3 separate regions of the Homo sapiens genome follow, and regions 1 and 3 are each linked to region 2. Evidence: fine-mapped expression QTL. A gene starts in region 2. Each other region holds a variant in brackets. All regions are shown on one strand. Distances are from middle to middle. Region 1 overlaps INPP4A (inositol polyphosphate-4-phosphatase type I A). Region 2 holds the start of INPP4A (inositol polyphosphate-4-phosphatase type I A). Region 3 overlaps INPP4A (inositol polyphosphate-4-phosphatase type I A).

Region 1 (4,000 bases), 100 kb after region 2:
AGCAGACCCTTGGGCAGCCAGGGCTGTGGGATCAGGGGAACCAAAGGCTGTACAGCAGTGGGCTGGAGGGTCAGGACCCCAGACTTGTGTGCATATCCCTATAGCTGGCTTGTCCACAGGCCTGAGCCCAGAGTAATGGAGGAGAGCTTTCTGTCATTCAGATCAGAACTACGACATCGTCACCATTGGGGCGCCAGCAGCACACTGCCAAGGTTTTAAGTCAGGAGGTCTCCGCAAAAAGCTGCACAAATTTGAAGAGACCAAGAAACAGTAAGTAGCCAGAGAGGGTTTGTGGTCCTTGTACAGCTTTCTGATGCTTCTTTTCTCAGTTTAAAATAAAATCAAAATATGACCGCAAAAACACCCAGCCATCTGATCTGCTTTTGCGTGGCAGGAGGATCTGCCTTATGGAGCCTGTGCTGCTCTGTTTATGTGTGACTGAGCTGGGTGGGTGATGAGGGCACTGGATCAATGGTCCTGTCCTGCAAAATGAGGAGCAGATTGTGATCCACCTCAGAAGTGGTGCTCCAGGCAACCGCCCTATGTAGACTCTGCTGGCTTGGCATCCTTTAGAGTCCCTGGCCAGTCAGTTGAGCACCATAGGCATCGAGCCTGGAGCATGTTGTTTCCTAGAGGACAGCAGTGGTAAACATTCCCAGTTTTTGAAACATTCAGGGGGCTGTACAGAGCTACTGTCCTGAGCAGGAAATTTCCAGGTAGGGAGGGTGGTGAAGGGCATTTCAGACAAAGACATGGCAGAAGCATTGCACATGGTGAAATGTGGCCAGGTGCACAGTGCTGGGGGCGGAGAGCTAAGAGGACTGGCCTTGCTGCCAGCCTGCTCTGTGACCAGAGTTACAGCCCCCAGCAGATCTAGGCCTGGTTCCAGGAGCTCAGGGCCTTGCCTGGGAGTAGACAAGTCAGCAAGCACCATTTGGCATGAACAGGGCCTGAAACAAGCATGCTGAGGATGCTGGGGTGCATGGAGCAGGGCATCCACCCAGCCCCCAGGGGTGGGAGGGAGAGAGCCAGAAATAAACCCAAGCTGTTGTGTTAGATGTGCAGGAGGCATTGATGATCTTCCAGAACATCACCTGTGAAGATTTCAGTGGCTCAGGAAGTGGGGGTGATGAGTGTAGATGACCAGTAAGATCCTTGGACTGTGACCACAAAGTAGAGGAAGTAGCATGAGGTGTTTGGTTTAGGGAGAATAATTATGACTTAGCATGTGTTTGGGCTGATAGGAAAGACAGAAGTGGATGAGGTAAGGTGAATGAGAGGAAAACAGTGTTAGAGCCGGGTTCTCACAGGATGGAAAGAGGCAAGAGCAGGTGTTCATCAGAAGGGCCAGGAGAAGAGGTGGGGCTGCAGAGAGATGTTTGAGGTGGGAAGGAACAAGCAGAAGCATCCGTCGACAGCCTCTGCAGCATGTGGGCTGGGGAGGGTCAGACTCAGCAAGCAAGCATGGAACAGCGTGAGGGAAGGTGAGCAAAGGCCCAGGGAGCGTCACAAGAATCCCATGGATGGTCAGGTGAAGAGCTCTGGCATGTGCCATGGAGCTGGTGGTTGGCACCTGACTGTGCTGCCATGGCTGGGAGTCAGGACGTGATCTGAGAAAACTGAAAGAGGTGAAAGGTCAGATCAGTGGCTGAGGGGGTCAGGGAGGCAGCTAGGGGCGTCACTGATCATGGGCAAGGCTGAGCAGGGAACGGAAGAGCGT[A/G]CCCTGTGAGAAGTCACCATTCAGATACGTGCACAGGCTGCCTGGGTGGGCCCAGAGCCCGGTGAGTCCCGGAGGGAGGAGAAACAGGGAAGGGGAATTCAGGCCCCCAGACAACCTACTTGACTTTGATTCATTCCCAGGGGTGCTTCCCTAAGACAAACCAGGTAACCAGACCTGTCTTAGGATTTGCTGACTCCAGGTCCCTTTGGGAAATAGGAAGAAGACGCAGCTTCCTGTGCCACCGCAGCTCTGCACAGCCAGCCAGAAAGCGTGTCTGTCGCTCCATTGCATGTTGCCCTGTGGAGAGTGTGAGCGTGCAGCTTGAGATGGGGTGGGGCCCTGAAGGAGAACCCATAGTAACTCTGGCCAGTCAAGAAGGGGGCCTTCTGGGGGTCTTTGTCCCAGGAGGCTTGGGGTGTTGATTCCTGATAACTCTGCATGTTAACTTTAGAATTTATTTCTCAAAATACCTCTTAGTATTTTTCAAATATATAAGTTTCTATTTAATTTCTCACTAATGCCATCAAGCCACTTATAGATATGGTATTCATGATTTGAACTTTCCTTTAAATGCGGAGGTAACTTGGCCTGAGGTGGGATGTCTCCCTGGGGCTTGAGCACAGGGAGTGACGCTGCTCTAAGGAATAAGCACATTGGGCTCATGATTGTAGTCATCCCTGTAGTTGGGACCTCAACAAATAATTTTAAGTATTTTGACAAAAAATAAGTTGGCTTTTTAATTTTTTGTTTTTGCATTTGGTATTTGCTAACAAACTGCTAATATTTCATTTTGGTTCTTTTCTTTAGCAGTTTTGAGGAGTGTTGGTGAGTTTTCTGTCTGTGGAGAGAGTGTCTGTTTGGGTCTCGTCCTCATGCAGAGAAAGCTTGTGCCATCCCCACACCTCCTCCTGTGGGCTTCCCCTGCGGTGCTGCCATGGTTCCTAGTTATACACCTCATAAACAGTCCTCCCTTCCAACTGCAATGTTCTTTAATAATGAATAGCCAATCTTCAGTCTGCTGTTTTACCTTTAAAACCTGGCAGCTGGGTGTTGTCGTACTCACTCTGAGAAAGGACCTAGTTCTGTTTCTCCCAGGAAGAGGAAGGGCCCGACCCAGGAAGCCCCTGGGTGCTGGGTTCTCATGTCAGCCCCTGGGTGCAGCTGGGAACTCCTGTCTTCTTATACAGGAGTCTTGTGGCTTTTCAGTTTTCACTTCACTATTACCTCTTATACAAATGAAGCCAGCCTACATCTTCATGATGCTTATTAATTTATGCTGATTTTAATAACACTGTTACCAAGGTCAGTTTTACCCCTGGGGGTGGGTACAAACCAAGATTTAATACAACTGAGTGACTTTTTCCACCAGATAATTAGATGACAGTTAGAAACCACGGTGTCTGCTGCCTGGGCTTCTCTACTGCTTCCCCAGGCTCATAACAGAGGCTCTGCAGTGGTGCTTCATTCAGAGGCACCTGCAGCCCCTCAAGAAATGCTGCTGCCTCAGAGCCTGTGACCCATGGGGCTCAGGGGCTATGGCTGGGCCCTGCTGGAGGTGTCAGGCTCTGCTGGTGGCATCTGACAGGAGGAAGCACTGAGGACATTCCCCGATGTCCAGGCTGAGGCCTCTCAACTTCCCCCTGGGGGTCCTTTTCCCTGGGGGTACTTTAGGTACAAGGGAGGGAGGAGGGCATCTAGGGACGGTTGCTGCTGCTCCTGCCTCCTTAATGGAGCAGACCCATGCTACTTCTGTGGAAGTGGCCTCTCAGCCTCCCCTCCCTGCCTTTTCTCTACTGGGGACTCTTTCAAGGCCTGATCTTTCCCATAACGGGACAAGTAAAGTACTTAGGGGTTGAGTCTAGCGGGGCAGAGGAAGAGGAATGGGAGGGGAGAGGCCTTTGGCTTTACCAAGGAGCTGCCCCCAAGGCCTGCTCCTTGGTAAATCCCAACCCAGGTGTTTTGGGTTGAACCTTGTTCCTGGGGAACTTTCTGCGTTCCTGGGTTCCCTCTGAGGACCCTCCATAGCCCAATCTGGGCCTGGTCACCCCTTGCCGTCTCCCCCCTGCTCCCCATATACAAGACTGTCCCTGAAGCAGGGAGGGGATGGAGCGGGGAGGGTTACAGGCAGAAGGAGTGTCCCTGCCTGGAGACTGTGAGGGGCTAAATCCCAGGCAGAGAGGACCCAGCCTCCCAATCCTCCTACCCTTGCAGAACCCAGCTCCATGGGGGCTCAGCCTCTGCAGAGGTGATCCTGCTCTTCTAATGTCCAGAGTGACTGTT
Region 2 (4,340 bases):
CATGATATTGTAAACCAAAAGGTGTCTGAGACAGATCTGTCAATTTAGAGGTTTATTTTGCCAAGGTTGAGGATGCAACTGGGAAAATGAGGCACAAACTACAGTAGGATCAGTAGGATCTGTGGCCTATGCTTTTTCCCAAGAGGGTTTTGGGGACTTCAATACTTAAAGAGGAAAAAGTGGGCAGGAGGGGAAAGAAGAACAGTGAATTATGCATTTTTACATAAGGTAAGTAAACAGAGAGTAGAGGAAGAGGTCAAATATGCATTTGTCTTGGGGTGGGTGGAAGGATGATTCCTCCGCTTGTCTTTGTCCCATTCCTGTGACGATAAGCTGTTAATTTACATTGTCAGGGTGAGGGAGGCCACCTGGGGAGATATGTGGCCTTCTATCTTGCAGCTATCTCTTTAGGAACAAAAGGAAGGCAGTTTTTTTTGCATGATTCAGTTCCCAAGCTTAGCTTTTCCCTTTGGAGTAGTGAGTTTGGGGGTCCCGAGATTTTATTTTCCTTTTACAGTATTAACTAACACATGGCTCCCTTTTCTCTTGATAATTTTCATTCTACGGTGGAATTAGGGCCTCATTCTTTGCCACACTGAAAATGTGATTGATCTTTGAAGATTATCCAGAATTACATAACAGTCAAGTGACAGATGTTATTGGAAGCTGATCCTCATTCAGTGTTACTGTACTAAATGAATGAATACTGAAATTAGACTGATATCTATTTTTAAATCTTTATAAATTTAATTTTTTTTTCTTTTTTAAAAGTTAGTGTTTAACAACTTTCTTAGCTTGATTATGACTGCCAGGCGTGGTGGCTCACGCCTGTAATTCCAGCACCTTGGGAGGCCGAGGCGGGTGGATCACCTGAGGTCAGGAGTTCAAGACCAGCCTGACCAACATGGAGAAACCCTGTCTCTACTAAAAATACAAATTTAGCCAGGGTGGTGGCACATGCCTGTAATCCCAGCTACTTGGGAGGCTGAGGCAGGAGAATTGCTTGAACCTGGGAGGCAGAGGTTGCGGTGAGCCGAGATCGCGCCATTGCATTCCAGCCTAGGCAAAAAGAGCGAAACTCCATCCCAAAAATAAATAAATAAACAGCATGGCCATAAAATTTATTGTTTGAACAGGAATACATTTGAGAGTGAAAGAGGGCCCTATTAATAATTTTGCTGCAAAAAGATGTAAACTGGGGCTGTTCCAAGCAAACTAATTGGTCACAGTAATTAAAAAAAATGCAAAAATATTTTTGCATTTCTACAAATTTGATTTTCTTGGCTTTAACTTTGTACTGTGGAGTCAAGGTTCTGTCAATATTTCTTTCCATTTAGCTGGAGAAATAATAAGAGGGAACTGTTTTATTACTAAGTTACTTTTCAGAAGAGAAATAAAATAAAAAGTAAAGAAATAAAAATTTAAAACTAGGACATTTTCTTTTTCTTTTTTCTTTTCTTTTCTTTTCTTTTTTTTTTTTTTTTTTTTAGAGATACAGGGTGTTGCTCTGTCTCCCAGGCTGACACTGCAGCCTCAAATTCCTCTGCTCAATCGATGCTCCTGCCTCAGGCTCCCCAAAAAACTCGTTTTATATTTGTTTATTTTTATTCCAGACTATTGTCTGTATTTTGGTGACATGAGGAGGATCAGACATAATTCTAAATGAGTTCAGAGAATTCTTAATTTCCATTCCTAACTGGTTAATCTCTTTTGTTTTTGAAGCAAATTATATGTTTAAATGCTCTGCCTGAGAAGTATTCTGGTTTATTGAATTAAAATCATTTTAAGAATTTTTTTTTCGGATAAAATGTGAAGACTCAAAGATAAGGATACATTCAGTCCAGTATTTGCCCTTGCTCAAGGAGAAATGCTGTTTTAAAGTCAAAGTGAAAATTTTCTTCCAAAACTTCTGATTATTGTTTTTGTCTATGGAAAAATAGAAACTTGGGGCAAAGTGTAAGGACTGATGCTGTTGCAAGTCTGTTAGTGCACACTTATGCACACAGGCCAGAACAGGTCCGGAAGGACATACACTTAGAGGTTAGCAATTTTCTTTTTTTTGCAAGTCTGTATTTTCAAAGAATTAAGATTTTAATTTTTTGCTTGTCTGGTTGGAATGTTCAGTTTCCTAAACATCTCCTGGGGAGTGAGTACGTCTGCACTTCAGGAAGTGCTCTTGTCCGGAGGGCAAAAGGTTGGGGGCGCATCCCCGGGTCGCGGCTCCTCCAGGAAACTTTCCCTTGGGGATCCGTCAGGGCCTCAGATGCCTCAGTGGATGACAGGGTGAAGATGCCATCGCTCAGTCAAGTCCAGAAGTTCAAGAACTCCTTGCAGGTGAAGCAGTCACAGGATAGGGTGGGATCTTGTGGGAACCTAGCAGTAGGAATTGGCGCGAGCAGCTCGGTCACCGGCCCTACTGTCTCAGAGGGCGGACCCAGCTCGGGCTGGTAGTGGGGCGGGGGTCGCAGGGCGCGGGCCGGGCCCTCAGCGCGCATGCGCGACAAGGGGGCGGGGCCAGGGCGGGGCTGCGCCCGGCGTCTAGAGCGGCGGCGGCTGGCTAGGGCTGCGGCGCGCGTGGAGGGTTCGCTGCTGGTTTGCCGCCGGGTCGGGCTCCGTGGGCCGGGGCAGGAGGACCAGCACCTGAGGCCGGGCCCGCAGCCCGCGACTTCACAGCCAGGCGGCGGCGCTGCTGCTGCTGCGGGGCTCTGGCGCGCAGCCCGGCGGGACAGCGGGGCGGCTGGCGCCGGGGGCCGGGGAGCGCCAGGTAGGTGGGCCGGGCCGGGCAGGAGGCGACGCGGCCGCCGCGGGGGCCGGGGCCGGGGACGGACAGCGGGCGCGGGGGCGCGTCCAGGTCCCCGCTGGGGCGGATGTGGACGGCGCCCGCGGTTTTCATGGAAATTGCACTGCCTAACGGTGCCAGTGGTCCACCTGCGGTGGCGTCTTTTGAGAACAATCCGAGCCCGGCCGACCCCCAGCCCCGTGAAGACGCGGCCGCCCCAGCAGGGAGCCGGGTGCCGAGCGGGCGCGTGGCCGCGGGACGCAGACGCGGTGCCTGCCCGATGCGGCTCCAGGGCTGGGTCTACGGGCTCCTGAAGCTGGAGGCCTTGCCGTGTTTGGGGTGGAAACATAACCGGGTGAAAGTAAACATGCATCTCCGTGTGGGAAATCTGGTCTCCATCCTCGAAACTCTTCCATTTTCTGCCTGCCTTTAGACCCCGACAACATTTCTAGCATCTTTGCTTTCTATATTTTATTTCTCTCTGGCTTTGCTAGTCAATTAATTGAGGCCTGAGAAATGTGCAGGGATCTGTGGCTGTCTCTTGAAAAGCCAGCCAGGAATGGGTAGGCCCCAGAAGACAGACGTTCAAAATGTCAGAGGTAAATTTGTGTCTTTGTGGGCGAAGGAAGGGAATGTTGATGGTCTCGCTTCCCTTCCCCTGTCGCCTGCCCTCTGACATTACATAATGATGGGTTCTTCCTGCCCCGAGTTCATCCGTAATGACAGACCATGAAAATGTTCCTCTGGGTAAGAAAGACCTATATGTGGTAGAGCCCATCTTCTCTTTTGCTTTGCCACTGAATGTGTCTTGTGTTGGGAACCTGCCTAAGAGTGGAATTTGATTTGTCGCCTGCCCCTCAGGGCATTTAAACCAAGGGAATGGGGGTGGGGTGGCGATTTGGGTGTTGCAGAGAAATTCTGACTGGTCCATCTGTTCACAGTGGGTTGTGTGGACCATGGGGAAGCCAGTGGGGTTGAGGACAGAGTGGGTTGACTTCGGTGTGAATCATGGTTCTGCCGCTTGCTGACTCTGGTTCTTATCTCTAAAAGGTGAGAGCAGAGCCTTTTTTGCTGAGTTTGTTTTGGAATCTAGCTGCTGTTGGCGTTGGCCAGTGCACGTAGAATTGCTTGCTATAGGTTGTCCTAGAATTGAGCCTAATTTTTCTTTGGTTGAAAAACACACTTTCTTTAACGGAAATTTTGTTTTTGGATCTAGGCTAGGGCATTTGTTTTGGGGGTTCTTTGCTGAAGTGTCGACTGCTAATGTACTGTTTTCTTTGAAGAAAGATGAATGATGGGGCCCATGTAAGAAGGGCAGTGTGGTTGGTCTGTTGCAGGAGTGGTGCCAGGAGGCCGTGATGCTGTCTGTCCCAGGGGTGGCGTTGCATGTGAACGGGCCTCTCGGTGCCTCATTCCCTGTGATGTCTAGTAAACACGCCTGTGAAGCCAGAGCTGCTTGGTAGAGTTTGGCTTGAAGAAAAGGCTTAAAGAAATGGATGTGGACAAATTCAAAGAGAAAGAAACATTGTGTTTCTACTGAGCTCCTTATAGAATTAGTCTG
Region 3 (4,340 bases), 22 kb after region 2:
CAGAGGGCCTGCAGATGGCTGTTTTTAGGAAGTGAATAGGCTTCTTCTTTTTCTTCATTTTTTCTTTAAGATACTCTTGAGGTTTTGAGGCTCCACCCTGAGCTCTTTGTGGCTGAGGGCTGCTGTGGCTTGATGAAGGGGACAGTCTTCAAATCTTGCACAGGCTGGGGAAGGTTGGGACAGCACAGCCCTGAGTCTCGAACAAAATGGGGCAGAGGGGAGGGCAGGAGAGCCGTCAGATTCATGGGGCCACATCCTCGCAGCAACCCAGGGGAAGCTGAGGCCCCAGGGTCTGCATGATGGAGGCCGAGCACGACGGAGGAAGTGGAATTATTGCACATGGTGGGTTTCGACACTTGGGACTCGCTCCTCAAAGAGGAAAATCGAGAGTGGGGGTGCACAGAGCAAGGGCTGAAGAAACAAAAAGCAGGGGGTTTAGGGGAGAGATAAACCTCTTTGCATGAGTCAAGCTGAAAAGCAGTTTGGAAGGTCAAGTGCTAGCCAGTGTCTTTTTTTGCCTGCCCAGCCTCTTCTTCTGCCATGTCTGCCCTGACAGGGGCAGAGTTCTCAGTTCCCATGTCAGAACTCGGCACCAGCTTCTCTGTTGACAGTTGCAAGGCCTGTGGCTGAGAGAAGTACTTGTGCTGTGTTTCTGCAAGGTAAGATGGCCCTGATCACAGCTCATGATGCCTGAGATCAGGAGGGTCTGCTCCATGAGATATCAGCAGAGGCCATCCTGTGAAATATTTTAACTAATTGAACTGAATGTTGAAGACAAGGCCTGTGGCAGTGTTGTATTTATATGTGACAAGCCGAGAGTCCTTGGACAACCTTGGAAACTCCTTTTTAGGACAGAATCAACTGAGACGATACACACGAAGGAGCTTTTGTGAGCAGAGTACAGAGCTCGTTATTGCAGTACAAGGTTGTAGGTTTTCACACAGCTTTTGAGGATGGGTTGGTGGCCCAGGGAGGATGTCAGGAACTGTCCTTCACTAATGGGGATTCTCGAGTTCCTACCACGTGCCAGATAGCGTGCTGATTGCTTTGTATCCACTTCCCTTTTAATCCCTTGTATTAGCTTCCTGTGGTTGCTGTAACAAACTCGGTGGCTTAAAGCGAAAGGAACTTATTCTCTCACTGTTCTGGCCTCCAGAATCACTGGGCTGAATCAAGCTGTGGGCAAGGCCATGTTCCCTCCAGTAGCTTAGGGCGGAATCCATTCTGTGGCTGCTGGCTTGCCTCGGCTGCCGGCCCCTTCCTCATCTTCACACCAGCAGGGTAACATCTTCTCTCCGTGACTCCGCTTCTCTCTGCTTCTGTCACACGGCCCTCTCTTCTCTCCGAAATCTCCTGCCTTCATATAAGGACATTTGTGATGGCATTTGGGGCCTACCAGTGTAATCTAGGATAATCTCATCTCAAGATTCGAAACTTAATTGAGTCTGCAAATCCTTTGCTGTATAAGGTAACATTAATAGGTTCCAAGGATTTGAACGTGAACCTCTTTTGCAGGGGGCATTATTTGACCTGCCATACCTCACAGCAGCCTGATGAGGACCATACTGTCCCACATACAGTGGGCTTAATGAGGAAGCTGAGGCTTGGGGAGGCCTAGGGGTGGCCATGGTCCTTTCCTCTCCCAGACTCTGGGGTAGCTGACTCTGGGGTCATTTTGTCATGTTGCTGGGCACTCACTTGGTGAACAGATAATCCCCTGTCATTTTACTATGTTGTTACATGGGTTTGAAAAAAGAGTTTTTCAACTCTCTGGCTGAGCCCCTGTTCCTGTGAGGGCCTGTGGTTTTTCCTCCCGGCTCCACCCTGGTTTCGGCGCAGTACTTGAGCAGACGGTGGCTTGGGTCTCACTCTAGCG[C/T]CCTCCCCCTTCCTCTCTGGCTGTGTGCCCAGGCTGGCCCTGCCCACCTTGCTCAGTCTCTGCTCCATCTGCCACAAGTCTCACTCCAGCCCTCCCCCCAGTAGCTTAGGAAGGGACCTTCTTGTTACGTTTTTTGTTTTGTTTTGTTTTTTGTTTTTTTGTTTTTTTGAGATGGAGTCTCACTCTGTTGCCCAGGCTGGAATGCAGTGGCGTGATCTCTGCTCACTGCAACCTCTGTCTCCTGGATTCAAGCGATTCTCCTGCCTCAGCCTCTTGAGTAGCTGGGACTACAGGCGTACGCCACCATGCACAGCTAATTTTTGTATTTTTAATAGAGATGGGGTTTCACCATGTTGGCCAGGTTGGTCTTGAACTCTTGACCTCAAGCAATCTGCCCGCCTTGGCCTTCCAAAGTGCTGGGATTACAGGCGTGAGCCACCGTGCCCGGCCTTGTTATGTTTTTTAAGCTAACCCTGTAGAGCACTCACTGTGCACCAGCACCTGTTGGCTCAAGGGGGTGACAGACATTCCCTATCACAGATTACAATGAGTCACCGGCATTTTTGGAATTTCACTAAGCGTCGTTGCTGTGCTGTGCCTCAGCATGCAGCACTTCATTTAATCCTCTGGACACCTTGAATGATAAGTGTCTGTCATCCCATTTTACCCGTGAGAGAATTGCGGCTCAGAGAAGTTGTCACCCAGCTGGTTGGTGGCAGAGGTTTCAGAGGTCTTTCTGTGCATAAAACCCTCACTTATGGTTATGCCAGGTAGGCCTTGGAGGGGATAGACCCATCGCCAAACTCACAGGAGAGAGAGGAGGGCACTCACAGGTGATGATGTCTATCTGTCTTCTTTCTGGTGGGGACCCAGAGTTTTATTTCCATCTCGTTTTCTTTATGAATGCTTGTCTCACACTTATGTATTTTTTGGGCAGTCCCTGAATAACTACACCAGGCTTCTGAATGCCGAGTTTCTTAGAGTAGCCGGGAAAGGGCCTTTTTCTTTTCCTCTTGGATGTTCTCTTAGTCTGTTTTGTGCTGCTATAAAAGAATACCTGAGGCTGGGTAGTTTTTAAAGAAAAGAGGTTTACTTGGCTCACAATTCTGATGGCTGGAAGGTTCAAGACTGGACATCTGCATCTGGTGAGGCCTCAGGCTGCTTCTACTCGTGGTGGAAGGTGAAGGGGAGCTGTCGTGTGCTGAGCTCACATGGCGAGAGAGGAAGGAAGGGAGCGGGTGGTGGTGGTGGTGTCCCAGGCTCTTTTCACAGCCAGCTCTTGTGGGAACCAACGGAGTGAGAACTCACGCACCCTCAAAGCGGGGGGTGGTTGGGGGAGGGCATTAATGTATACATGAGGGATCTGCCCCCATGACCCAAATACTTCCCATTAGGCCCCACTTCTGACATTCGGGATTAAATTTCAGTGTGGAGTTTGGAGGGGACAAACATTGTCCTCTTGTGCCTGTGCCACACTTGCCCCTCCGTCCCCCTCATCTGCTGATGATTCATCACACTGTTAACTTGGTCTCTACATCTGTTTAAACGCTTTCTCCTTTCCCCTATTATGTTGCTGTTAAGACTGTGAAGCTGTCAGCAATGTTAGCGACACCGTCCACATGTGGGGACAACAGGTCCAGTGAACCTAGCATCATCAGTGTCCTTTGCCCTTGGAACTGAGTGGAAATTATCTTCTCAGCCTCCATGGATTTAACTTCTGTGTTCTTGATGTGAAGCTTCTTTTCCTTAAGTTAGAGTTTTTGCATATACATCCCACACATACACTTGCATTTGATTTTCTTGTCTGTATATGCACACACAACACACACTTGATTTTCTTGCACCATAATAACGTTTTTCTGATTTTAAATTAGAAAAGGACAAATGAGTTGAATAGTTATCTATTAGTTATAGATAATTATCTATTATCTAATTATTATCTAGTTCTCTATTTAATAGTTATCTATTAGTTATTAACTGTCTAATAGTTATTTATTTCTTGGGAACTTAAGTACCAACTTAGTGGTAATTTTACATGAAATGAAATGTTCTCTGGGTTCCAGATAACTTATAAATGGGCTTTTAGAGTACAGCCTGTTGGTTGAACAGGCCGTAAGTTCAGCCTCATCTTTGTCGAGTTCCACAACTAAGTTTTACAATTATTTATGAATGATAGTGCTTAGCATACTTTCCAACTCAGTGAGACCATGAACTAATTGAATTTGTAATAACCCTGAGTAAATCTTAGTGGACTAATAGTAAAACTTTGAGGTTTTACAGTAAGAAAGTGAGATCCTTAGATATACCAATTTTAATGTCTCAGTAAAGAAAACAATTTTATTGATTGATTGATTGATTGAGACAGGGTCTTGCTCTGTTGTCTAGTCTGGAGTACAGCCATGTAATCATAGCTCATTGCAGCCTTGAACTCCTGGACTTAAGTGATCCTCCCACCTCAGGGTTC

Evidence for each region. PIP is the estimated chance that this variant, and not a neighbour inherited with it, causes the effect.
Region 1: its variant is the best candidate, but not a certain one, in a credible set for the expression of INPP4A in whole blood (TOPMed, PIP 0.76).
Region 3: its variant is the best candidate, but not a certain one, in a credible set for the expression of INPP4A in whole blood (INTERVAL, PIP 0.70).

What each region holds. Positions count from the first base shown.
Region 1 is chr2:98,546,425-98,550,424 of GRCh38, forward strand. INPP4A (inositol polyphosphate-4-phosphatase type I A) reads left to right here. Exons shown (of 25, transcript NM_001134225.2): 13 at 162-270. Among named protein-coding and RNA genes, the nearest start is that of COA5, 60 kb to the right of the region's middle. RefSeq lists an enhancer at 2,651-2,740. The variant A/G (reference allele first, on the strand shown) is at 1,721.
Region 2 is chr2:98,442,322-98,446,661 of GRCh38, forward strand. INPP4A (inositol polyphosphate-4-phosphatase type I A) reads left to right here and starts at 2,537. Exons shown (of 25, transcript NM_001134225.2): 1 at 2,537-2,764. RefSeq lists a silencer at 2,367-3,006.
Region 3 is chr2:98,464,020-98,468,359 of GRCh38, forward strand. The region is part of intron 1 of INPP4A (inositol polyphosphate-4-phosphatase type I A); the gene reads left to right. Among named protein-coding and RNA genes, the nearest start is that of INPP4A, 21 kb to the left of the region's middle. RefSeq lists enhancers at 1-26, 1,277-1,416, 1,427-1,736, 1,835-2,399. The variant C/T (reference allele first, on the strand shown) is at 1,877.